2 separate regions of the Homo sapiens genome follow, and region 1 is linked to region 2. Evidence: fine-mapped expression QTL. A gene starts in region 2. The other region holds a variant in brackets. All regions are shown on one strand. Distances are between the middles of the regions. Region 1 has its middle 22 kb from the start of HMOX1. Region 2 holds the start of MCM5 (minichromosome maintenance complex component 5).

What was found. PIP is the estimated chance that this variant, and not a neighbour inherited with it, causes the effect. A credible set is the group of variants that fine-mapping cannot tell apart.
Region 1: its variant is the best candidate, but not a certain one, in a credible set for the expression of MCM5 in whole blood (INTERVAL, PIP 0.72).

The regions. Positions count from the first base shown.
Region 1 is chr22:35,356,806-35,362,175 of GRCh38, forward strand. No RefSeq gene overlaps it. Among named protein-coding and RNA genes, the nearest start is that of HMOX1, 22 kb to the right of the region's middle. The variant TG/T (reference allele first, on the strand shown) is at 2,971.
Region 2 is chr22:35,397,796-35,403,165 of GRCh38, forward strand. MCM5 (minichromosome maintenance complex component 5) reads left to right here and starts at 2,345. Exons shown (of 17, transcript NM_006739.4): 1 at 2,345-2,413; 2 at 2,636-2,810. The coding sequence starts at 2,644. RefSeq lists enhancers at 1,890-1,939, 1,950-2,109.

The DNA of each region.
Region 1 (5,370 bases), 41 kb before region 2:
CGTGCTCTGTTGCCCAGATTGGAATGCCGCGGCATGATTGCAGCTCACTGCAACCTCGGCTTCCCCCGTCCCCTCTCCCCTACCCCCTGCTCAAGCGGTCCTCCCACCCAGCCTCCTGAGTACCTAGGACTACAGGCACATACCACCACGCCCAGCTAATTTTTATTTTTATTTATTTATTTTATTTATTATTATTTTTTTAGAGGGAGTCTTGCTCTGTCACCCAGGCTGGAGTGCAGTGGTGTGATCTCGGCTCACTGCAACCTCCACTTCCCGGGTTCAAGCAGTTCTCCTGTCTCAGCCTCCCGAGTAGCTGGGACTACAGGCGCGTGCCACCACACCCAGCTAATTTTTGTATTTTTAGTAGAGACAGGGTTTCACCATATTGAGGTCAGGATGGTCTCGAAGTCCTGACCTCAGGTGATCCACCTGCCTCGGCCTCCCAAAGTGTTGGGATTACAGGCGTGACCCACCACGCCCAGCTGTCATTTTTTTAAAAAATATTTTTGCAGAGATGGGGTCTCACTGTGTTGCCCAGGCTGGTCTCCAACTCCTGGGTTCAAGTGGTCCTCCCACCTCAGCCTCCCGAAGTGCTGGAATTACAGGCATGAGCCACTGCACCCAGCCGAAAATATATTTCAAAGGGCAAATCCGACCATGTTTTACAATACCCACACCCCCAAAACCCAACACACACACCTAAAACCTTTCACTTGCTCTCAGGCTAAAGACCCACCTCCTGGCCTGGCCTCCAGGGCCCCTGGAGTCTGTCCCCTGCCACATTCTTCAGGTTCTCTGCACTCCAGACAGGCTGTCTTTCCCACCTCAAAAGTTTCATGCTGGGCTGGGCACAGTGGCTCACGCCTGTAATTCCAGCATTTTGGGAGCCTGAGGCATGTGGATCACGAGGTCAGGAGATCGAGACCAGCCTGGCCAACATGGTAAAATCCTATCTCTATTAAAAATACAAAAATTAGTAGGGCGTGGTAGTGCATGCCTGTAATCCCAGCTACTCGGGAGGCTGAGGCAGGAGAATCACTTGAACCTGGGAGGTGGATGTTGCACTGAGCTGAGATCGCACCACTGTACTCCAGCCTGGGCGACAGAGTGAGACTCCATCTCAAAAAAAAAAAAAAAAAGTTTCATGCCCTGACCACAGGGCCTTTGTATGTGCTATTTCCTCTAAAACAGGCCACCTGACTTAACTCATTCATCCTTCAGGGCTCAGCTACTGTGTCACCTCCTCAGACAAGCTACTCTAACTTCCTGACTGGTCATTCATCCGGCACAATGGAATCCACCTGCACAATTACGCTGGCAAAGAGGAATGGGATGACCACAGGATGGCTTAGAATCTCTGCCTCAGAGTAACCATGACTCACCTCTGGCACTGGGCACACCCTCCCTAAATCTATGATTCCATCTGGATCCCAAACAAATTGGGGTTCTGTTACCTAGGGGAAGAGGAGATGGCTGTTGAGTAGACAATCAACAGTGTCCACCACATTGCCATACACTGCACTCCCCAACCCAACCTCACTTGCAGAGGAGGAAGGGGGCTCGTAGACGTTTCTGGAAGGTGATGGCAGGAGCACGAGTGAGAAGGAAGTTGCCCTGCCTGGGCACTGGTCTCAGACTGGCCTGACAAGATGGGAGGTTGTGTGATGTATGATGAAGCCTCACTATTGGACAGTTTGTTTTTGATACAGGTAACTGCCAGTCATATCATGACCTCTGGGACACACACATACTAAAAAAAAAAAAAAATACACAGGAAAACCTCCCAGCTTAGTTAGCAATATGTAAGGCTTTTTGTCTCCCCCTCCAACAAAAACCTCATAAAGACTCACGTAGAGTCAGACTGATGGTGCTGTTTCAGCCAACCCGTATCCCATGCTTGCATACCTCCAGTGACAGGGCACTCACCACCTTCAATAGGAGCCATCTCACCTGGCCAGCCCCCCGACACTGATCCATAAATTAAGCTATAAAATCTAGTTGGCATATTGTTTAATGGGTACAGAGGTTTAGTCTGGGATGATGGAAAAGTTCTGGAGATGGATGGTGGTGATGGTTGTACAGTGGGAATGTACTTAATGCCACTGAACTTTACACTTAGAAGTGGTCAAAATGGGCCAGGCGTGATAGCTTACTCCTGTAATCCCAGCACTTTGGGAGGCTGAGGCAGGTGGGTCACCTGAGGTCAGGAGTTTGAGACCAGCCTGGCCAACATGGCGAAACACTGTCTCTACTAAAAATACAAAAAATTAGCTGGTCATGGTGGTGCGTGCCTGTAGTCCCAGCTACTCAGGAGGCTGAGGCAGGAGAATCACTTGAACCCGGGAGGTGGAGGTTGCAGTGAGCTGAGATCATGCCATTGCACTCCAGCCTGGGTGACAAGAGCGAAACTCCGTCTCAAAAAAAAAAGAAGTGATCAAAATGGTAAATGTTATGTATATTTTACTACAATTAATTTAAAAAACCACACACACACAAGCACCATCTCTCAGGCTTCACAACTTACCAGCTGTGTGGTTTTGAGCAGGTTACTTTTTTAAAAATCTGATTGGCAGTTAAGGCAAACACTTAGGCCCACTCTCTCCTTTGATCCCGATTTGCTTTGGTTCAGCCTCATCTCCCAAGCTCAGAAATTTGGGCTCCATTTTTAGAGCTTCAAATCCTGCCTCTTTTCTCTGTAGAGGCTGTAGCCGCGGTCATCCTCGCTTGCTAGGGGCCTACTGTGTGCTAGGCTCTGAGGATGTACGTAGCGAGAAATGAGTCATAGCCCTTGTCCTCCCAGCCACAGGGAATAGTCAGGGGAAAAGGGGTTAGTTAGTTGGATAGATAGGTAGGTAGGTAGGGAGGTAGTGGAAACCTGCCAGACTCCAGTCTCCATGAACCCCAGCCCAGCTGTGAAACTCCTGAGGACTGGTCCCTGATGTCCTGTGTCCCCAGATGCCCTCATTTAGG[TG/T]GGAATGACCACAGCACAGGATGACACTGGTCCCTGAGCTCTTGGCATGAACAGAATGTGTGTGGGGAGCCTGTGACCTAGGAATGTCCACAGCACAGGATGACACTGGTCCCTGAGCTCTTGGCATGAACAGAATGTGTGTGGGGAGCCTGTGACCTGGGAATGTCCACTGACACCGGTGATCATGTGTCCAGGAAGAGGAGGCAGGAATTCTCATCTCTGAGGCTCACTCTGCCCCGGGAATTGCAGAGGAACCAAGCAATCTGGGATCGGAGAACCCAGCTAACCCAGAGCAGTCAAAGTGGTGGCCCCAGGGCCATGTCAGGTCTTGTGGAGGGTGGTTGTTGTTTTTTGTTTTTTTTGTTTTGTTTTGTTTTGTTTTGAGACAGAGTCTCGCTCTGTCACCCAGGCTGGAGTGCAGTGGCCTGATCTCCGCTCACTGCAAGCTCTGCCTCCCGCGTTCACGCCATTCTCCTGCCTCAGCCTCCCGAGTAGCTGAGACTACAGGCGCCCACCACCACGCCTGGCTAGTTTTTTGTATTTTTAGTAGAGACGGGGTTTCACCGTGTTAGCCAGGCTGGTCTCGATCATCTGACCTCGTGATCTGCCCCCCTCAGCCTCCCAAAGTGCTGGGATTACAGCCGTGAGCCACCGTGCCCAGCTCTTTTTTTCTTTTTTTAACTGAGTCTATTGTCAATGTTTAAAAAACTGAACATTTCTTTTTTTTTTTTTTCCTTGAGACAGAGTCTCACGCTGTCACCCAGGCTGGAGTGCAGTGGCACAATCTCGCCTCACTGCAGCCTCTGCCTCCCAGGTTCAAGCAATTCTCCTGCCTCAGCCTCCTGAGTAGCTGGGACGACAGGCACCTGCCATCACGCCCTGCTAATTTTTGTATTTTTAGTAGAGATGGGGTTTTGCCACGTTGGTCAGGCTAGTCTTACACTCCTGACCTCAGGTGATCCGCCTGCCTCGACCTCCCAAAGTGCTGGGATTACAGGCATGAGCCATCGCGCCCGGCCACAAGTGCATTTTTGTTACATGGATATATTGCCTGGGCTTTTAGTTTAACCTTCACCCAAATAACGTAAATTGTACCCTGTAGGTAATTCCTCATCCCTCAATCCCCTCCCACCCAATTATTATTCATTTTTCGAGACAGGGGTCTTGCTTTGTTGTCCAGGCTGGTCTCCAACTCCTGACCTCAAACAATCCTCCTGCCTCAGCCTCCCAAGAAATAGCTGGGATTTCAGGCATGAGCCACCATGCCCAGCTGTGGTTACTGATTTTTCAGCAAGAGTCAGCCCTCTCCTTGAAAAGAGAAGAAGAGTCCCCAGCTGAACACCTGTTGTGTACCACACACTGGGTACACGAAGCTCCTACACCCCTGATCTCAGCTGGCCCTGGTAAGCCGGGATTATTAGTCCCATTTTCCTGATAAAGAAATGGAGATTTTGCAGGGTGAAGAGGTCACAATATGGGTTAAGTACAGAGTCCAGCACCCAGCTCCGTCTGATGCCAAAGGCCAGGGGCTTTCCACCACGCCCCCATGCCACCTTCCCAGGGGATGCCGCCTCGCCAGAAGTCCAGGGCACATTCTGGAATTTCTTCAGAGAGGACCTTGGACCCTCATAGAGATCCTTTCTCACAGCTGCCTGCTGGGGAGCCCTTGAGAAGCAAACACTTCCCAGCATTGGACAGGTGACACAGTGGGTCCACAGACACTGTCACAGGTGGCCCTCATGATGGTCAAGAGCCAATTTTTTGTTTTTTGTGTTTCTTGGGGTTTTTTTTTTTTTTTTTTGAGACGGAGTCTCACTCTGTCACCCACGCTGGAGTGTAATAGCATAATCTTGGCTCTCTGCAACCTCTGCCTCCCAGGTTCAAGTGATTCTCCTGCCTCAGCCTCCCAAGTAGTTGGGACTACAGGTGCATGCCATCACACTTGGCTAATTTTTGTATTTTTAGATCCCGGCACTTTGGGAGGCTGAGGTGGGCAGATCCTCTGAGTGCAGGAGTTGGAGATCACCCTGGCCAACATGGTGAAACTCTGTCTCTACTAAAAATACAAAAATTAGCTGGGCGTGATGGCGGGCACCTGTAATCCCAGCTACTCAGGAGGCTGAGGTAGGAGAATCACATGAACCCCCGAGGCAGAGGCTACTGTGAACTGAGATTGCGCCACTGCACTCCAACCTGGGTGACAGAGCGAGACTCCATTTCAAAAAAAAAAAAAAAGTTATACTTACAATTATTGACAAATAAAAGTGCCCTGGCTCTGCTACCTGCCTCCTTCCCTGTTCCCCAAAGTGAATGGGCAGAGTGAGGTAGTGGAGGTGGGGAAGAGAGGGACAGGCCCAGAGCTTGAACTTGAGCCAAGCCCCACAAAGGAGGAAAGACAT
Region 2 (5,370 bases):
CACATCCTCGGTTGTTGCCTGGAATAAACGGTAAACATTTACCAGCAGCCTTGAGTTTTCTCAGGCAGGCACCTTAGCGGGGGCTGGCTAGAGTCATTTTAGAGATGTTAGCAGCTGTTAGAAACTGTTAGTGTTTGTTTAAGTCTTTTTTTCTTTTCTTTTTTTTTTTTTTTGAGATTAAGTTTCACTCTTGTCGCCCAGACTGGAGTGTAGTGGCACGATCTCGGCTCACTGCAACCTCCGCCTCCCAGGTTCAAGCGATTCTCCTGCCTCAGGCTTCCAAGTAGCTGGGATTACAAGCGCCTGCCACCACGCCCGGCTAAGTTTTGTATTTTTAGTAGACACAGGGTTTCACCATGTTGGCCAGGCTGGTCTTGAACTCCCGCCTCAGCCTCCCAAAATGCTGGGATTACAGGTGTGAGCCACGGCGCCTGGACTGTCTTTTTTTTCTTTTTAGAGATGAGTCTCGCTCTGTCGCTCAGGCTGAAGTGCAGTGGTGCAATCAAAACTCACTGCAGTCTCAAACTCCTGGGCTCAGGCCATCCTCCCACCTTGGCCTCTTGAGTAGCTAGGACAACAGGTGTGCTCCACCATGCCCAGCTAATTAAAAAAAAATTTCAAGCCGGGCGCAGTGGCTCATGCCTGTAATCCCAGCATCTTGGAAGGCTCAGGCGGGTGGATCACCTGAGGTCAGGAGTTCAAGGCTGGCCAACATGGTGAAACCCTGTCTCTACTAAAAATACAAAAAATTAGCCAGGCGTGGTGGCACACACCTGTAATTCCAGCTACTTGGGAAGCTGAGGCAGGAGAATTGCTTGAACCCAGGAGGTGGAAGTTGCAGTGAGCCGAGATCGTGACACTGCACTCCAGCCTGGGCAACAGAGTGAGACTCTGTCTCAAAACAAAAAAAATTATAAAAAAATTTCTAGAGAAGCGGGATCTTGCTATGTTGCCCAGGCTGGCCTCAACTCCTGGACTCAAGGGATCCTCTCATCTTGGTCTCCTGAAGTGCTAGGATTACAGGCATGAGCCACAGTGCCTATAGATCAAGGTTGAGGCTTAGAAGTGAAGGGAGCCCAGAGGAACCTGGCTAGAGTTTGGTCAAGGAGAGTCTTTGTCACCATACTACAGAAAATTAAGCAGCTGTTAAACAGAATGAGGCCGGTCTGGGCATGGTGGCTCACGCCTGTAATTCCAGCACTTTGGGAGGCCGAAGCGAGTGGATCACTTGAGGCCAGAAGTTCGAGACCAGTGTGGGCAACATGGTGAAACCCTGTCTCCACTAAAAATACAAAAATTAGCTGAGCATGGTGGCGCCTGCCTGTAGTCCCAGCTAGTTGGGAGGCTGAGGCAGGAGAATCGCTTGAACCGGGGAGGCAGAAGTTGCAGTGAGCCGAGATTGAGCCACTGCACTCCATCCTGGGGGACAGAGTGAGACTCCCTCTCAACAAATAAATAAACAAATAAAAGCAGTGTGTTAGGGTGCGAGAACCCGGGTCGGGGACGCGGGTGAGCCGCGCGGTAATCGCCCTGTCCTGCCACCAGCTGGAGGACAGGGGCTCCTCAGAGCCTCAGGCCCAGAGAACGGGCCCCACGACCGGGAAGCGAATACTCCACAGGGCACAGTCTCCCAATGCAAAATGGGCACCTGGACCCAATCATTTCTGAACTTCTAGTTTTTTCTCCCTATGGCTATGAAAAGGGTCATTTTTTTTCATAGGACTTTAAAAGAAGGCTTAAGAAAAGCACGCAGGCCTGGCCGGGTAGCTCACGCCAGTAATCCCAGTGCTTTGGGACGTCAAGGCAGGCGGGTCGCTTGAGAGTAGAGTTTCGAGACCTGGGCAAGATGGTGAGACTCCGTCTTTATGAAATATTTTAAGAAAATCACGTACACCTGTGGTCCCCGCTACAAGGGAGGCTGAGGCGGAAGGATTGCTTGAGCCCAAGAGGTTGAGGCTACAGTAAGCCGTGATCCAGCCACTGCACTCCATCCCCGGCAACACAACGAGACCATGCGTCAGGAAAAAAAAAAAAAAACCAAGAAAATAAAAAAGAAACCACCTAAAGGCGTCCTCCGCGCGCCCGCCCCTCCGCCATCTTTGCGTCCGCCCCGTCCTGCGCCGCCACTTCCTTCCCAGCCAGAAGTTTCGCGCCAAATTGTTCCGCACACAAAATGGAGCCCGGAAGGAGGCGAGGTCATGCACTTTGCAGCCAATCATCTTCGGCAGACAGTCCGGGCGGCGGGGCTGGAGGGCTCAGAACGGTCCAATCGCTGGCCGCGAGGCTCCGGCGAACCAATGGGAGCGCAGCGGCTGCGGCGTCCGAACACCGCCTCTTGTTTTTCCCGCGAAACTCGGCGGCTGAGCGTGGAGGTTCTTGTCTCCCCTGGTTTGTGAAGTGCGGAAAACCAGAGGTGAGGCTAGTGGGAGTGGGACTGGGACTGGGAGCCAGCAGGCATCTGGATTTCCGGGTGTAGTTGGAGTGGGACAGGAGTTTCTCGGGAACTGGGGTTGGAGTCCGGGAGCGCGGCCGGGGGTCCCCCTGCTCCGGACTCAGGGCAGGGACCCAGGCGTCGGAGGGGAGGAGGTGCCAGGCGCTGCCCCCAGCCTGTTCTGGCCGTTTGTTCCCACCCCAGGCGCAGTCATGTCGGGATTCGACGATCCTGGCATTTTCTACAGCGACAGCTTCGGGGGCGACGCCCAGGCCGACGAGGGGCAGGCCCGCAAATCGCAGCTGCAGAGGCGCTTCAAGGAGTTCCTGCGGCAGTACCGAGTGGGCACCGACCGCACGGGCTTCACCTTCAAATACAGGTGCGGCTCCTGCGGGGCCGGGGGCTCGAGTTCCAGTGTGGCCGCTCACACGCCTCTACCAGCCTGCTAGAGTCCTGGACAGTCAGGGCACAGATGGGCCCAGACGGGGGAAAGAGCCGGTCCTGGGTCACAGGGCTCATCCCGGCAGCCTCACGCCTTGGTATAAGGCTTTGTGTATTTTGTTTTACTTTATTTTATTTTATTTTATTATTAACGTATTTGTTTATTATTTTGAGACGGAGTCTCGCTCTGTCGCCAGGCTGGAGTGCAGTGGCACGATCTCGGCTCACTGCAACCTCCGCTTCCCGGGTTCAAGCGATTCTTGTGCCTCAGCCTCCCGAGTAGGTGGGACTACCCCCGCCATCACCACGCCCGGATAATTTTTTGTAATTTTAGTAGAGATGGGGTTTCGCCATGTTCGCCAGGCTGCTCTCGAACTCCTGACCTCAAGTGATCCACCCGCCTCAGTCTCCCAAAGTGCTGGGATTACAGGCGTGAGCCACCGTGCCCGGCCTGCTTTGTGTATTTTATCTGTACCTGGAGTTAACTTCTGGGTGAGTCACCTGTTGAGTGGGCCACCAGCAACCAGCTAGCGCCACTTGGACCGTTTAGTTCTTTATCCAGATCTTGTTCCTGTTCATCTGCTTCCTATCATCCTTCCATGTCATGTCTGAGACCTTACAAACTCAAGTTCCCTGTAGGTGTAAAAGGTGAAGATGGCAGTTAGGATTCACTTCACTTCGCTCATTCATTTATTTATACCAGTCTTGCACCTTCATTGATTGAGCACCTGCTGCCTGCCAGATACTGTTCTGGGTGCTGGGCTGCAGCACTGAAGCTGGACCTGGCTCCTGCTTCTAGGTGATTGTACGACCTGTGACATCATGAGAATTCTCATAGGCCCGGCCTCTATCCCTGAAATGTTAAAATGCAGAGAACATGAGGTTGCAGGTTCAGCACTGGCCCATTATTAGCTGAGTGACTTCCAGGTGTCAGTGTCTCTGGGCCTCACCAGGCCAGAAATGGGTAAAGCCATTCCTGCTTTCACTTACTCATGCAGCAGCTGATATTGCCCACCTGTGTGCCAGGCACTGCGCTACAAAGATGAAAAGACGTGCTTCTTGTCCTAGAGAAGCTCCTAAGTCAGAGGAGTGAGTCGTGAAGACCAACAGATAACTTCCACGGTGGTCATTTCCTCCACAGAGGAAGGTGAAAGGACTTAGGGAAGTTTTCCGGGGGGCTGAAGTTTGAGGGGACCTTTGAGCTAAGGTCAGAGTTGCAGGTGTAGAAAGCTTTCTGTCTAGGTAGGAGCAATTGCTTGTGTAGAGGTGTGGGGTGTCCTCACAGCAAGTGGCTTTCAGTAGCAGTCTGGCCATTTTACTGGCTCCTGGACATAAGGGAGACGGGGCTCAGGCCTGTGATACTGCGAGGCTGGGGAACAGCCTGTGCGTTGGTCAGTGGTCCCCAAATATGTTCTTGCCACAGCAGTCACATGGGATGCTCTGCTAAGCATCTGGGCTGGACGCAGTGGCTCATGCTTGTAATTCCGACGCTTTGGGAGGCTGATGCCAATGGATCATTTGACCCCAGGAGTTCAAGACCTGGCTGGGCAACATAGTGAAACCCAGGCTCTATTTAAAAAAAAACAGTCTGACTAGAGGTTGATAAGGCAGATGTGTTTTCTGCTGCCTTGGTGCCTCCAGTTTTTTTGTTGTTTTGTTTTTTGTTTTTTTTTTTTTGAGATGGAGTCTCGCTCTGTCACCCAGGTTTGAGTACAGTGGCGTGATCTTGGCTCACTGCAACTGCTGCCTGCCGGGTTCAAGTGATTCTCCTGCCTCAGTCCCCCAAGTAGCTAGGATTACAGGCATCCGCCACCACACCCGGCTAGGTTTTTTTTTTTGTATTTTTAGTAGAGATGGGGTTTCTCCATGTTGGTGAGGCTGGTACCTTTTTGGTTTTTTTTTTTGAGACAGAGTCTCAGTCTGTCGCCCAGGCTGGAGTGCCCTGGCGAGATCTCTGGTCACTGCAGCCTCCACCTCTGGGGTTCAGGCATTCTCATGCCTCAGTAGCTGGGACTACAGGCGTATGCTACCATGCCCGGCTAATCTTCGTATTTTTAGTAGAGACTGGGTGTTGCCATGTGGCCCAGGCTGGTGTTGAACTCCTGGCCTCAAGTAATCCACCCTCCTCAGCTTCCTAAAGTGTTGGGATTACAGGCATGAGCCACCTCACTGGGCCCCAAGTTTGAGCTGTGTGCATTGTTCTTTTCCAAGAGAAGTTAAAGGCTCTGCGGAGTCCTTCAGTGACAGAACTGGTTTGTTGTTTTGTGCACGCTGGCCTGGGTGTTGAAACATCCTTTGACTGTCTTGTGGACCCCTTCCATGGAGCTTTCTTTAGGGCATGCCTGTGCCAGCAGTGAGTAGCCTCTGCAGGGTTAAATAATGGAATGATCTGGAATTAGATGTGTGTTTGGGAAGAGGAATGGTGAGGTCATGGTGGCTGTGGTGTGGGCAGATTCAGGGGTGCAGGCACACCTCAGCCAGTGTTGGTTTCCTCTTCT